Regions from separate parts of the Homo sapiens genome. Here region 1 is linked to region 2. The links come from fine-mapping of genetic effects on gene expression. A gene starts in region 2. The other region holds a variant in brackets. All regions are shown on one strand. Distances are from middle to middle.

The links.
Region 1: its variant is fine-mapped to the expression of ATOX1 in whole blood (INTERVAL, PIP above 0.99).

What each region holds. Positions count from the first base shown.
Region 1 is chr5:151,903,454-151,911,453 of GRCh38, reverse strand. All of the region lies in intron 1 of GLRA1 (glycine receptor alpha 1), which reads left to right. Among named protein-coding and RNA genes, the nearest start is that of GLRA1, 17 kb to the left of the region's middle. RefSeq lists a silencer at 5,492-5,786. The variant C/T (reference allele first, on the strand shown) is at 3,431.
Region 2 is chr5:151,753,975-151,762,503 of GRCh38, reverse strand. It overlaps ATOX1 (antioxidant 1 copper chaperone), which reads left to right and starts at 3,873. Exons shown (of 4, transcript NM_004045.4): 1 at 3,873-3,958. The coding sequence starts at 3,953. It overlaps ATOX1-AS1 (ATOX1 antisense RNA 1), which reads right to left. Exons shown (of 4, transcript XR_007059008.1): 2 at 8,382-8,529; 3 at 5,433-5,566; 4 at 4,144-4,215. RefSeq lists a silencer at 3,685-3,934 and an enhancer at 4,705-4,834.

The sequences.
Region 1 (8,000 bases), 150 kb before region 2:
CAGATTATCATAAGTATTAAAAGGGAGAGGGCATATAGTTGGCATTGCATATGGCAAGCAACAAGTGTAAAAAGCAGGAAAACCACTATTACTATAATTAAAGTAGGATAGGTGCAAAGTGTTGTGGGAGCATACAAAAGAGCCTGATTAACTCTGTCTGGAGGTGGGAGATGGTATAAATTGAAGACATTTCACATGACTCAGGATAATTAAACTGGGCCATAAAGAATGACTAATTTACCAGGTAGGCAAAGAGTATCAGGAGAGTGAGGCAAACAAAGGAAAAAGGCTTGCAGAACAGTCAAGCTGAATGATGTTGAGCTCAAGGCCACTGGGTAGGCCAGGCATCCACCCTGTTATGTTGGCTCAGCCCAGTCCTGCTCTGCCCTATTCTCTCCCAATGGGCTTTCTATCAATTAGAAGCCTGGCTGAGAGAGAATAATTTGTTCATTATCCAAAAAATATTTATTAATTCCTACGATAACCAGGAGTTGTTCTAAGTTCTGGGGATAGATACATTGAGGAACAGAGTCATGGTCCCTGCTCTAACACACCTTAACTTCTAGTGGGGGGTACAAACAACTAAACAAATAGAGAAACTATAGAATTGCAGGACCTAGTAAGTGCTATAAACCCAATAAAGCAAGAGAGGGTAACACATAACAGTCTACTATCAACTCCACCCTCAAGGTGCCTACACTTTCATACATCTCCATTATCTCCCTTAAGCCTTATATTATAGGAGATGGGCAGGTTGGAGAGGACTGTTTCTTGTTATAGTTGAGGAAACTGAAACCCTGAGGGGAAAAATGATTCATCCAAAGTCACACAGCCAGTTAGTATCATGGGCAGGCAACCTCATTCCATGCAGAAAAGTCAAAAATGGCCAGGATGAATGATTACGAGGAGTGGAGAGAGAAGGGAAGGCAAATAGCAAAACAGTCTGTACAGTAGGATCCCATTTTTATTTTTTTATATGTATTAATGTTCTCTTATGGGGAAAAATTCTACAAAAATGGACTGAAAACTGTTTATAGTTGTTATTGTCTCTTGAGAATGAGACCATGGGGAACTTTTATTTCCTGCATTAAATATTCCTGTAATACTTGAATGTTTTACAACAATATATATTACTTTTGAAAAGCTGGAAAATATATTTTTTAATAAAAGAGGATGCCAGAGAGTATGGGCATTCAACCAAACTTAGAGCCCACCTTAATAAAAGGCAACCTGTACCAGGTAGGAAAGAAAGACATTTGGAGTCACCCAAACCAGTGCCGTCTTGATTGTTTTCTCTAAGTAAAAATCAGCCTAGAAGCTGAAACTATTTCGTGTATTTAGGAGAATTTTCTGAACAAATGGAAGTTGCTTTTCCCACAGAAGTCATTGTGCTGGAAGCAAAATGTCACTGGAAAATGGAAGGCTAGAGTTATATTATAAAATTGGGTGCTCAGAACAACGTGATGGATGGTACATACTCTCATCAGGGTGACTGGAGCCCTACCCAATTCACTGTGCAATTTCATAAAATACTCCTACTCATGACAAAAAAAAAAAGTTAGAGATGGAAAGAATTACATGTCCCAGTTGTTTCAGTTCCCAGGGAGGAACTGTGGCCAGAGGGAAAGGGACTTGTCCAAAGTCAACAGTAAATTAATGTCCAGCCCAGACAAGAACTGAGAATTCCAAGTCTCTTATTACCATGACAACTTTCCCTAAAATCAAATCAGAGTTACACCAATAGTCTACAAGATACACTATAATGGTACAGGATAATTTTCTCTTATTTTATTTTACTAGGGACCAGAACTTACCAATTCCATTATGATACTGATAACATTTAAGACTAAAAATCAAATTAAAAATAAATTAAATAACAGTACATAAATTGGGCAAAACTTATTATATGACATGCAAGTGATTTTGGTTTGGAGAATACAGCACTCTGTCATCACATCTTAAACACTACCTGGGAGAAAATGGAAAGTATCAGAAGGACTTCTTAAACTGTGTCAGTTCTGAGCAAGGCCTAACTTTACTCTTAACTTCCAAACAGCTTCTTCTCAGGGTAAGTCATGACCATGGGCTGCAATTTGAATTCAAATGGTTGGAGAAAAGATGGTGCCTTTGGGTAAAAAGTGCACACATTCAGGAAGCAGAGCACAGCTGAGATCAGGTCACCCTTTGTGTAATTTGCTGAGTCTCTATTTGAGCTATATTCATAGTTTTCTTTTCTCTCCTTATGTTAGAATGACATCTGTGACTCTCGACCCTTCTCCTTATGGACAGAAATCCCTCTAAATAATATTTATAATTAATAATACCAGCGAATATGAATAACATATATTTAGAACCTACTATATGCCAGAAACTTTTCAAAAAACTTGATATGTATTAACTATTTCATCTTTATAGCTACCCTGTGAGGAAAATACTATGATCATCTCCAGTTTGTAAATGAAGGGACTAAGGCAGTGATCTTACCAACCTAGGACCCCTTTAGGGCACCTTGGCAATTCAAGTTCAAAGTCTTCATATGGAGAAAGACAGTGGACAAACCCCTCCAAAGACATGGCGGGGTAGGATGGAGAAAGTAGATAGAGACTCTGAGGAGGAAAATTGAGGGGCTCACCCCAAATCACAGCCACAATGGGAAGAACTTGACAACACACTTCCCTTTCAGTTCTTCTACCCAAAATCCTGATTTTGTTTTCATTTAACATTATGGGATTAAGAAGCAACAAACGAGAAGAAAGAGTATTGAGCAAGAAATAAAATGAACAATTTAAAAAAAAAACAAGAAAGGGGAGAGAAATGTGGAGATAAGCAGAGTAATAAAGAGGGAAGAGCACTCAACTCAGGTCTACTCTGGGTTCCACCAAGGACTCATTCTGTGAGTCTCTTTCTGTCTTGGAAATGCATTCTTCTCATCTGTAAAATGAATGAGTACACTGTACTAGAGGACTTCTAAGACCTCCCTCAACTTCATCATCCTAGGATTCAGAAACAAATGAAGGAAAAGGAATAAGGTAGAGAAACCAGAAGGGAAAAAGAATGTAGGAGGGAAGAAGCAAAGGTTAAGGAGGAATGATGACAGGAGGAAGAAACAAGAGGATAGAGAAAGGAAGATATTTTCCAAAGCAGTTGGAATCTGCTTATCTTGTTGAAAGAAAAGGAAGGATCCTCACATCAAGAATTCCAACAATAAAAGCTTTCTCTTCATGCAACTAACTCCATGTTTCCTGCTGGTGGGACCCATGGCTGATGTTGGTAGGAGCCTAGACTGATGTCTACAGAACAGGGGCCTGAATGGATACCTGGGAGGAGACAGGATGCTGCCTTGTTCTCAAAGCCCAGGAAGGAAGGCTGCTGAGAGAGCCCTCAGAAGGGCGGCCCTTCCTCCTCTTCCTCACCTCTTCCTCCTTTTCCT[C/T]ATCCACATCTTCCTCCTCCAGGCCAGATTATGGACAACAATTATTAGCATATTCCCAGGCTATGGGGAAAGTCCTGGGGAAATGACTAGAGAATGTGCCCAAGGGAGCCACAACTGCAACATTACAGCATTGTGCCTGCTAGAAAGAATCCTGGGCATCATCAAAAGGAGAAAATCCCAGGCAAGAAAGAGACCTTCCAAGGTCATCTTCTCCATCTCTTGCCTCTGAGCATCCCTTCCCTAATTGCCCAGGGGCTGCAATCCAAACCAAAAGATTTAGCACAGAATAATACTCAGTCCTATCAGCTAATCTTTTCACAACTGTCTGGGCCATCCCAGGCCTTGAGACTTTTGTAGACAAAGACAGTGCCTCCGATTGATTGAACTCTAATGCATATGGCACAGTGCTGGGCATATAGTGGGCTCCTCAAACCCATCTGATATTTGATCCATAGGGTGACATGATTTATTAGCTGTGTGGTTCTAATCTTTCTCCCAATAATGTCTATTCTATTGCTTAACATTTCAGTTTGAATATTCTTCCTTTTGTTTATTCCACTGCCCCTGTTTTAAAGTCCAACCTGTCATTTGCCTAAGGGGACAGAAATTAGCATGTACCTGCCACTGCAGAAGTGAAGTAAAATACTCACCTAGGAGGTGACCTCTCCAAGTCTAAAATTTTTCCCAGTGAAGAAGTGAGTAGACAGTGTCGCCAAATAAATGAGAGCCACAGATACAAATAGAAAGATTATAGATAATTTTTCGCTTAATATATAAAGAGCAACTTCTGTATACCAGCTTCTTGGCTAAACAATTTATCTGTATTTTTTTTTGTAAGTCTTCTAAAATTAGGCCATATTCTTAGTTTATAGATGAAGAAACAGGCTCAGAGAAGTTAAGCAACTTTCCAGAACACCCAAGTAAGTAATAAAGTCACAGTTCCAGCCCACTCCTCAGCTGTCATCCTTACAGCATGCTACTGAGCAGAGAAGTTCAGCCTCTCCTTGAATACTTCCAGTGACAAGAAACTCATCATCTACTCAGGCAGCTTCTTCCATTGTTGGATGGCTCTAATGGTCTAAATATTCTTTCCTCACATGTATCAGGCAGCCATCTTGCTCTTTAAAAGTCCGACAGGTCTTCCCTAGTCACTTGGAACAAGTCAGTGGGCTGTAGAAGGTACTCAAACTATAAAATTAGAAAGACCTGGCTCCATTCCTACCATTCCACCTATTAACCACGTTAACTCTCAACCAAGTCACTTCTGCCTCTGTGCCTGTTACTTCATCTGTACAATAGATACACAAATACATACCTCATGTAGTGTTTTGGAGAAGAAAAAATAAATAATATTTGCAAAGCTCGATGTCTGGAAAATAAAAATACTCAAAAAAATTATTTTATTAAGTTGGGTCCCTCTTCCCCCAACAGCCCAATGGACCGATCCCTTCTGCCTAAGACTTCTCTGAGCCAAACACCCACAGAGTCTTTAATTATTCCTTACAGGTCAATTTCAAGTTTGTTTACCAGCCCAATTGTTCCCTTTTGGACCTGCTCCAGCCTGTTAATGTCCCTCTTAAAATGCAGGACCTACAACTAAATATAATAAATTAGCCAAGATGTGAAGTACAGCCCACATCCGGTATTTCCTGCATTCCTGACTCTTTCAGTCTTCGGATTTTTCTAAGTTCTTAAGAATTATTAGGTTAAACTTAGGCTGGCATAAGATTTTAGTGCAGATTATTTGAACCTTATTTTTATTTGTAATAATTGCTAACATACTCAGTAGTTTCTCTGTGCCTGGCACTGCAGTTCTCACTTGATATGTATTTTCTTACTTAGCCAAACAATTATAGAAAGTATCCCTATTATTACCCTTATTTTACTGATAAGGAAACAAATTGAAAGTGTTAAGTGACTTGCCTAAGATCACACAGCTAATAAATCAGAACCCGCTAATAAACGGCAGAATCAGATTTGAGTCCACCATGTTATCCCACCCCCCATTTCGAGCATTTAGGGAATGCTTGCAAAATGTAAGTACTTTCAGGGATTTAAAAAAATGAATATGACACAGGCAGAAGACATATGCAGGGCAATTTAACAGAAAAGGAAATGCAAAGCACGAAGCAATGTTGGGCTTCTGAACAATCTGTCACTAAGAGCTCGCTTTCTCCCCTCCAGCACGTTCCAATGTCTACAATTTCATGGGCAATGTGAGTCAGTGGAGGAAAAGGGAAAAGGTGGAAGCAGTCACCTCTCTCCTTTTCAACTTTTACTTACTCACCGTTGACTTCAGCCCTTGCCCCTAGCACACTGCCTTATGAAGAATTAATTTTCAATGACAGCCAAGTTGCTGGTCCTGGGGGGTTGGAAGGGGCTCCTTTACTCTGCTATGGCCTTTCTGCCTCAGAAATATTTCTAGCTTTGACTCAGCAATTTTGCTTCTAGGACATGAACAGAGGTTTGTGACCAAGGGGGTTTTTCCAGCATAATTTATAATAGCTAAAAATTGAAAATAATATAAATGCCTATCAATTGTGGGAGAGCAAAATAAATACTAATTTTAAATGACTGCATATGCCAGCCACACACTGGCATATGCAGTCATTTAAAATTGTGTTTCTAAAGATTTAATAGCAATAGAAAATGCTCATTTAGAATCTTCAGTCAAAAATAAAGAGGAAACAACACTCATTATGATCTGTAGAGGAAAAAAACCTGGAAGAAATTTAGCAATATGTTAACAGTAGATATCTAGATAATGGGTTTTCTAGGTGGGTTTTCATTTTTTTCCTTGAACCTCATTGTATTTTCCCAATGTGCATTTTTTGCTTTAATCATCAGAGGAAAATGTTATTTTTTTAAGAGTTGAAAGAATCTGGTCTGAGGGCAACCAGCCAGCTTGTGAAAAAATAGTTTTTGCCACTGGACAGTTTCCATATGTGCAGCAGCAATTACTGCTCTGTTACCATCAGATCATCTTAATCCTATTGACTGAAATGCCAAAGTAATACTATTAATTTACTACATAACAGATAAATTACTAAGAGCATAGTAGAACTACCTGAGATTGCTGTGGTACTCTTCTAGGGTCAGAGTGGGTGGCCCTTCTAGATTCCAATATAAAGCACAAAAAGCTTCTGGAAGTTCATATATTCATCCCCCATCACAAAGCCTAGATCTGCCAACTCTCTTTGAATCAATAAAAATTGTATTGAACATTTACACTGTGCCACACACCAAAGTGAGCACTGTAAAAGAATGCTTATTCCTTACAACAAGCTTACGACCAACAACTACTATCACCCTCATTTTACAGATGCAGAAACAAAGATTTAGACAGAATAAGTAACTTGTCCAAGGCTGCACAGCTAGCAAAAGCCAGAGCCTGATTTGAGGCCAGAGTCCATGTGCTTAGCCCTGGAGCATGCCCTTTTTCAGCCAAAAAACAAGTTCTTATGCTTTCTTCCACATTATTTTAAATAGTAATTTAAAAGTTAGAGCAGGAGCTATCTACACGCTATGGATGAGGAAGCTGGTGGTTACGTGTAGTAAAGGACTTGCCCAAGATCATACAAGGAAGAATTGCAACAGATAGAAATCAAACCCAGAATCTCTGACTCCACATCCACAGCTTGTCGCATTTCCAAGGTTGCTTCTCTTTGCCTCTGAGACACGCAACAAGCAGCAGAAAGCAGTGGGACTCAGGATCCCGTTTGGTCCCCCTGTGTGTTAGAAAGGGGTGACCTGCTGGAGGATCTTGAAGGTACAGGGTAAAAAGGACAGAAATCCCAAGAAGAGAAGAAAACCTCAGCAACGACCCTAGAGCTCCTTTATCCTGAAAGGGTAAAGGGGCATTGGCCACAGAGCCTTGTTGTTTCTTCATCATCCATCACTCTTCCTTCCATCTCGTTAAGTCCCACAAGGTGTCAATGATACTTTTCCTGAATTCTCCTAAGTAAATATTCCTTCTAGAAGCTTATACTAAACCACAGAAGAGTAGAAACTTAAAACCATGCATATTTGAATTGAGTGAGCTGTTTTAGCAGATTTGAACAGCTGCTCCAAAACTTGCGCCAAAATTTCACCTCGATTAGATTTATGTATCAGCTCTGCCACTAAGTCACCTTGATTAAGTCAGTCAATCTCCCCAAGTCTCAGTTTTCTCATCTGAAAAATAGAAAAGAAAATGCTTGATGTTTCATAAAGTTGTTGGGAAGATTAGAAAGCCTGTATGGAACAGTTCTTAACTGTGGATGGCACCTAGAAAGCATTTGGTCATTGGTAGTAGCCTTTGCTATTCTCAGTTAATCTCTGAGTCAGTTTTCTTATCTATAAAATGGAGATGATAGTCTTGCAGGGGTATAATATACATTTATTAATTTATAGCAGGTGATCAATGAATGTCTTTTTTAATGCACAGGATGACTAGGTCTCGTAATTCTACGACTCTACTACTCACTTCTTGCCCAAGACTTTGGAACCTGCTGAGTGAAACAAAGAAGTTCCACCCCACTGAGCATAGCTGCAGCTCTGACTCTGTCTTAGAGGATTCAAGGGAATCAAC
Region 2 (8,529 bases):
ATTTTTGTACTTTTAGTAGAGACGGGGTTTCGCCATGTTGGCCAGGTTGGTCTTGAACTCCTGACCTCAAGTAATCTGCCTGCCTCTGCCTCCCAAAGTGCTGGGATTACAGGCGTGAGCCACTGCACCCGCCCATCACCCTTTTTAAAAACTTATTTAGGCCAGGTGCGGTGGTTCACGCCTGTAATCCCAGCACTTTGAGAGGCCGAGGCAGGAGGATTGCTTATGAGAGCAACCTGATCAACATGCCAAGACCCCATCTCTACAAAAACATACAAAAAAATAGCTGGGTGTGGGGACATGCACCTGTGGTCCCAGCTACTCAGGAGGCTGAGGTCAGGGGATCCCTTGAGCCCAGGAGGTCACAGCTGCAGTGTGCCATGTTCACGCTACTGCACTCCAGCCTAGGTGACACAGCAAGACCCTGTCTCAAAAAATAAAAATTAAAAACTATTTAGAATTTTTATTTTTAAAAATGCTTTTCCTAGTCTTGTAATAAGAAAGCAACTAATTTTACATGTCAGTCTAGAAATAAATAAATTTATTTATTTATTTTTATTTTGAGACAGGGTCTTGCTCTGTCACACAGGCTGGAGTGTGGTGGCACGATCACGGCTCAGTGCAGCCTTGACCTCCTGGGCTCAAGTGATCTTCCCACCTCCGCCTCCCAAGTAGCTGGGACTACAGGTGCACAACACCATGTCCAACTAATTTTTAAATTTTTTGTAGAGACAAAATCTCGCTATATTGCCAGGCTGGACTTGAAGCAATTCTCCTGCCTGGGACTCCTAAAGTGTTGGGATTACAAGCATGAGCCACCATGCCCTATTTTTAATTGTGGTAAAACATACAGAACATAAAATTCCTCTTTCTAACCATTTTTAAGTGTATAATTCAGTGGCATTAAATATATTCACAATGTTGTACAAGCATACTCAGAGTTCTTAACTGTTGTCAACTAATCAAAAAATATTTTGAATACTTTAGGGACTGAATAAAATGTGTCTGTAGACCCAGTTCTGCCAGCATGTGGCTCTGCAGGACACCATGCTCCCTCTCCCAAGCCTGCAGTCCACGCTCCCTCAGCTTCCACTTCATAGCCCTTCTCTTCTCATGCATGCCTTGGCTGCTCTGAGGGCCCTTTCAGCTCAGAATCTTTGGTCCCAGATAAAGGGTCCGTTGGTGGATAAAGCAGTGAGGCAAGTGGTGTATACCTGTGTTATGATACAAAAAACAGACACTTGGTTTCCTGCGGTGGGGATATCGGGGAGCAGGCAGCAGCTACAAAACCTTTCTTTGCAAAGAATTAAACTCCTCAGCATCTGTCAAAGAAAGGGTCATCCCAGGAGGCTGGGTCTAGAAGTAGATTACACCAGGAAGAACCCACCATCTATACATGCCTACAGTGTGCACATTCCTATCCTTGCAACAACACTTTCAGCCAGAAAGCAGGGATTCTATATGCCCATTTCCCAGGCTCACTGGCTTAGTGATGGCTCATTGCCTGTAATCCCAGCACTTTGGGAGGCCAAAGTGGGCAGATCACGAGGTCAGGAATTCGAGACCAGCCTGGCCAACATGGTGAAACTCTGTCTCTACTAAAAATACTAAAAATACAAAAATTAGCCGGGCATGGTGGTGGGCGCCTATAATCCCAGCTACTTGGGAGGCTGAGGCAGGAGAGTTGCTTGAACCCAGGAGGCGGACGTTGCAGTGAGCCAAGATCACGTCACTGCACTCCAGCCTGGGCGACAGAGCAAGACTCCATCTCGGGGAAAAAAAAAAAAAAAGCTAAGAAAGAAAAGGGTTGATATGTACTATTAAGGAATAATCTTTTTTTTTTTTTTTTTTTAAATACAGGGTCATATTCTGTCACCCAGGCTGGAGTGCAGTGGTGTACTTATGGCTCAATGCAGCCTTGACCTCCTGAGCTCAAGTGATGCTCCCACCTCAGTCTCCTGAGTAGCTGGGACCACAGGCATATGCCACCACACCCGGCTAATTTTTGTATTTTTTGTAGAGCCAGGGTTTCACCATGTTTCTTAGTCTGGTCTCAAACTCCTGGGCTCAAGTGATCCTCCCACTTAGGCCTCTCAAAGCAATGCGATTACAGGTATGAGCCACTGCATCTGGCCCAGGAATAATCTCTAAGATATTTTATAAAGTGAGAAAAGCAGGATGCAAAACTGTGTATACTATGCCTTTTGTTTAAGAAGGAGAGGTCAGGGTAGGAGGAAGACCTACTTTTCACTGTACGCTACTTTGTGTTATTTGAAAATTAAACAGTAGGTACATTGGGATTCCACCTGCAAATCCTACACTTATCCAAGATAACTTCTAGTAACATTGGCTGTGGTTCATTTCATGCTTATTTTAATGTAAATACACGGAATGTATGTATATATTTATGCAGGAACTACAGTCTGGCATATTTTCTTCTCCTCTTTAATAGGTCTTTATTTGTGATCTTTAACAGATCTTTATAAAGCTGTCTTCTCTTTAAATTGCTGTCTCTAGGCTTAGCCATCCCCCCAACCCATACCCCTAATTCTCTAAAACATGCCGTGGGTGGTTCGCCCTGTGTACTGTTGCTTTGGGAAGGATTTCCTTCCCTCATGTCCACTCTCCGCCTTCCCTCATGGCAATCTAGCTATCCCTAGCCCCAGGGCACAGTTGTACCCAGGACTACCAAGATGCTAAGCCTTGCCCGTACAGGACCTAATGTGCCAGTACCCTCTTTCCCTCTCCTCCTCGCCCCCTTCCCTTCCATCTTTAGGGAATTCCTGGCAGGTTGGGTAGGGGATGAATGGTTAAGGGGTATTTTGTGAGCAGCGGAAGACCCAGTGCCAGGGAGGCCAACAGAGGGCCTAGCAATTAGAGAATACTTATATATATTTTTGGTGCCTACCATGTGCCAAGCAATGTATTAAGAAGTTTGCACACATTACATGTATTCCAACAATACTGCAAAGTAGGTTTCTTGGAGGGAACCATGTGTCGTTGTTTGCCTGAAACAGTCATGGTGTTTGCCTGTTGTCCTGGCAAAATTATTAATAGCATCTCCTTTCTCTAGCAAAAGGTTCAGATAAAAAATTGTATAGTGACCTTAACTGTCCCCATCTTATACGTGAGGATATTGAGGCTTAGAGAGGTAAGTTCATCTGCCCAGGGTCACATGGCTAATAAATGATAGGGCTGAGATTAAAACTCTAGTCAGTATGGCTCTGCTAGGGACTGAACTCTGACATGGACATGAATTGTGTCCCCGCAAATTCCTATGTTGATACCCTAACCCCCAATGCGACTGTATTTAGAGACAAAGCCTGTAACAGGGCGATAAAGGCTAACCGAGGTCCAGATTATTGCCTTCTCCCCAGGCCGCCTCTCTTCCACAACCGCCCCCACCCCACTGCAGTCAGGGCCCTTCCTCCTCTGTCACAACAGCTCTGCTAACCCTGCACTATCACTGCCTGCGTCCTTCGCAGCCTCCTGCTGCTGCTCTTCCACCGCTGCGTCCTCGTTGGCTGGCGCTTAATAAAAATTGACTCGGTGAATAAATGAGTGAAACTGTCCTTTTAGGGATGGATGGATGATGTCCTGTTCAAGGCGGTGCCCTTCTCTGGCATTCCCTAACACAAGCTTGACCCGAAGTAGGCGTTCTGAAAAAGGCCGACAGTCGATGGAGGCCAACGCAGCGCCCCTCTCACCTCCTCTCTCCGTCCAGGCCGGGTGACCACGGGCCCGGCCCGCAGAAAGGAGGCGGCGCGGCCGGCAGGGATCAGGACTGGAGGGGGCGGAGCCTCCCTCGCGGCCGGGCCCGGAGTGGGAGGGGCCTCCGGGACCAGGCCTCTAGTGCGCACTCTCGGAAGCGCAGCCGAACCCGCCCTCCGAATCCAGAGAGGCGCTGCTGACACCGCCGCCACACCGCCGCCACACCGCCGCTGCCTCAGTCATGCCGGTGAGTGGTTGCGCCGTCCCCGCCACGCAGACTTGCAGTCCCGGGTTGCTTCTCGGCTGCACAGCCGCTTGACCGGATGCTGATCTTGAAGGGCTCAGGCGGCGGCCGGAGCCGCTGTTGTCCCCTAGCTTACCCCACCCAGCCCCCAGCTTTTGCGACCCTTCAGAAAATGGGATCCGAAGGGAGTTTAATCTGGGAGCCAGGCTTCAAAACGTCGGAGCTGGAAGGCCTCCAGGGGCGACAAGCCCACACCTTCCCTGCGTACACAGAGAAACAGAACCAGAGAGGGGGCAGGGGATGGGGGAGTTGGTGGCCAGCGGGAACTGAGACGCCTAGTCCCTGAGCCTTCCTCCTGGCTGCCCTGCCCGCGGAGCTGGCCTGAAGGAGGGCGGTGGGGAGGCTCTGGACAAGGGAGTGGACCCGGTTATTTCCTCACGGACCGGGCAGGTTTTCAGAGGTTCATGCTTTTCTTAATTTCCCTGCCCACTCTGGCCTACTTTTCAGATCAACTCTGGGCGACACTGAATGGAGACACTTTCTCAGCCTGAACCCATGAGCCCCAGAGAGGTTCAGGAACCCCCCCGCACAGTCACCAGTTGCTCAGTGGCTGTGTCTGGGAAGTCAGTCTTAGCCTGCCTTTGCAGATCACTCAGTCTTATCACATATATTGTTGCTCGTGGCCTCGTTTTTTATATAAAGAATTGAGGCCTTTGGCAGATAAAAATATAAAAAGCCCAGTAACTTATTCCAGGTCGTGTTGAAGTTGGCAGAGCCAGGATTCAGCTCCTTATCCTTAGGCTCCCCATCTCTCCAGGCCTGACCACATGGGAGGTGCCAGGCAAAAGCAGTCACACCGGCTTGGGAAGATGCTCTGATCTCAGTTGCATCTTGGTTAGGGTCATGTGGTGTTTAGCATTTTCTTCAGGGTGCCTAATTCATGGCTCTGGGCCAGGTGGATACCCAGAGGTATCCCACAGTTGCCATGTGTCTTTGCATCCTGTCTTTAGGGAGCTGGCAGGTGAGCCTGAGGCCTCCTGGGCAGAGCCACTGACATCTCAGGTGTCATTTCCTGTGGGTCTTGCCAGGTGCCTTGAGACAAATCCTCCAACAACAAAGTATGGATAAGGAATCTGATAGAATCAGCCCTACCAGTTGGGCAAGTCAGCCTGTGGCAATGGTAGAAGACAGTATTAATTGCCCTGGGGCTTGGGGAGTGAAGGCCACCAGGATTTTTTGTGGGGGGTGGCAATGAGGAAAAGGCTAGCTTGATCATCACTGTATTCTGTATCTTCTGGGGATTTTGACAAAAAACCCTCTGGAGCAGATGATGGGAATGAGGAGGGCACTTGGCACCATGTACCACAAGATAACAGCTGAAGGAAAGAGGGTGTTAGTCAAGGGATTTCCTCAAAACTGGAAAGGGAAGAAAAAAATATATCTATATACACATACTGGAAGGGGAAGAGTGTGTTACCTGAGAGTTTTCTCAGACAAATGCCCGAGAGCACAGGGTTTGGAATCCCAGAAACCTCTGAAAATCTGTGCCCCAGCTTGCCAACTGGGTGACCTCAGGCAAGTTGCTTTATCTCACTGCCTTGATTTCCTCATCTGTAAGATAGGGACAAAAACTTTGACCTCACAGGACTGTTGTTAGTATTAACTGGAAAAATGCCAGTAAAATATGTCACACAGCCACTGATATATCTAGTCCCCAAGAAATGGTAGCTCCTGTGTAGACGTAGGACAGGTGGGCTAGAGCTATAGGCAGGTGAGGCCGGGCATGGTGGCTCACGCCTGTAATCCCAGCACTTTGGGAGGCCCAGGCGGGCAGATCACTTTAATGCAGGAGCTTGAGACCAACTTTGGCAACATGATGAAACCCTGGCTCTACAAAAAATACAAAAAATTAGCCAGACGTGGTGGCCCGTGCCTATAGTCCCAGCTACTTGGGAGGCTGAAGTGGGAGGATTGCTGGAGCCTGGGAGGTTGAGGCTGCAGTGAGCCGTGATCGTGCCACTGCATTCCAGCTTGGGTGACAGAGTGAAAGTGAAACCCTGTCTCAAAAGAAAAAAAAAAAAGGAAGGAAGGAGAGAGAAAGAAAAGAAAGAAAGAAAGAAGAGAAGAGAAGAGAAAACTATAGGCAGGCAGCTTTCAATCCCATTTTAACAAGATCTCAGTGGTTAAGCATTGAGGTTTTAGAGGCTGACTATGTTCAATTCAGGCCCTACTCAGCCGAATCACCGTGAGTGTGTGAACTAACCCCTAAATCTCAGTTTCCTCATCTGTCAAGAAGGGATAATAATAGGCCAGGTGCGGCGGGTAATGCCTGTAATCCCAGCACTTTGGGAGGCTAAGGCAGGCAGATCACAAAGTCAGGACTTTGAGACCAGCCTGGCCAACATGGTGAAACCCCGTCTCTACTAAATATACAAAAAAATTAGCCGGGCATGGTGGCGGACGCCTGTAGTCCCAGCTACTCGGGAGTCTGAGGCAGGAGAATCGCTTGAACCCAGGAGGCGGAGGTTGCAGTGAGCTGAGATCGTGCCACTGCACTGCAGCCTGGGTGACACTGTGAGACTCAGTCTCAAAAAAAAAAAAAAAAAAAAAGAATCATCCCACTTACTGACTTTAAAAACCTACTTTAAACCTACTGGCTTTTAAAATCTACCCATTTTATAAGTCTTTATAAAAGACCCCAGAGGCCATGAGGAACCAGAACTACCCAGTTATGCATCTGGTGGTAGAGCCAATCTTGAGATTCTCCTATAAAGAAGTGATTACTCTGTCCATGAAATAGATTTTCCATCACCCTCAAATTTATTTTTGCCCCTCAGAGGTGGAGGAGGAGAGCACTGAACTGTAATGTTTATACCCAGAAGCTGGTTTCTGGCTTCTGACCTTTATACTGTGGGGGATGGGACCTACTCCCTGTAGTCAGCGACAGAAAGTTTCAGGTATCTGTTGACTTTAGGTCCTTGGGCAGCAAAAAACTGTGCTCCCTAAAAATGTGTTTCTAGTTTCAGAGCTTCTGCTGAGAGTCAGGGTTATGAGGGCTGGCGGTGTACTTTGCTTTTCCAGAACCAGCAAGATTTCCCTGGAGCGAAGAAAGCCTAGGTTCATATTCCATACTCAGTAGTTATTTGCCACATGACTGCAAGCTACCTAGTGAACTCTTGGGAACTTCACTTTCCTCCTGAGTGAAATAAGATAAATAGCTCTCTTTCCAGGCTCAGTGAGGACTAACTTAGATACTGTACAAAGATAATTTGACATGTAATAGACAATCAGTAGATTTAGCTCTTATGTTGATCTTGCAAACCCTTCAAAGCTTTGGCTCAGTATATAAGTACAAACCATAGATGAATTGATTTTCTGCTGGTTATCCTAGAGCAAGACTCAGCAAACTTTTTTTTTTACACGGCACCGATAGTAAACATTTTAGTCTTCACAAACCATAGGGTCTCTGGTACAACTACTCAACTCTGCCATTCTAGTGCAAAAGTAAACAAATGAGTTTGGCTGTAGTTTTTTGTTTTTGTGTTTCTTTTTTTTTTTTTTTTTTTTTGGACGGTGTCTCGCTCTCTTGCCAGGCTGGAGTGCAATGGCATGGTCTTGGCTCACTGCAACCTCCGCCTCCTGGGTCAAGCGATTCTCCTGCCTCAGCCTCTTGAGTAGCTGGGACTACAGGCGCATGCCACCACTACCAGCTAATTTTTGTATTTTTAGTAGAGATGGGGTTTCACCATGTTGGCCAGAATGGTCTCGATCTCTTGACCTCGTGATCCTCCCGCCTCAGCCTCCCAAAAATGCTGGGATTACAGGCATGAGCCACCACACCTGGCCCGATTTGGGCTATGTTTTAACAAAACTCTTTGTAAAACAGGTAGTTTGTAGTGTGCCAATCCATGTTCCAGAGCATCATCATTTTTTTTTCCAAAACAATTTTTTTCTTTTAAATTAAATGGAGCCATGATCTCACTGTATTGCCCAGGCTAGTCTCAAACTCCTGGGTTTAAGTGATTTTCCTGCCTCAGCCTCCTAAGTAGCTGGGATTACAGGCACCTGCCACCATGCCTGGCTAATTTTTTTTCTATTTTTAGTAGAGAAACAGGTTTTGCCATGTTGGCCAGACTGGTCTCAAACTTGTGACCTCAGGTGATCTACCTGCCTCAGCCTCCCAAAGTGTTGAGATTATAGGCATGAGCCACATTGCCCAGCCTAAAAAAACTTTTTAATAGAGGAGAGCATCATCTCAGACTGTAATGTGGGGAGGAATGACTTGGGTGTCTTGTTAAAATGAGGATTCTGATTCCGGACTTCTGGGAAGGGACCTGAGATTCTGCATTTCTGACAGGCTCTCAGGTGATGCTCATATTGTTGGGCTGAGGACCACATTTTAAAGACAAGATTTTGTAATACTTACTACAAATCCTTCTTTCCAGAATCTGTTATTGTTGCTGTCTGTGAATAGTCAGGAAACAAGATGAAAAAATCAGAGATGTTTAGAAGAAAGGAAAGACTGACCATTTTCTTTAAGACAGATTTTGCAGATTTGGCCTTAATAAAAGGAG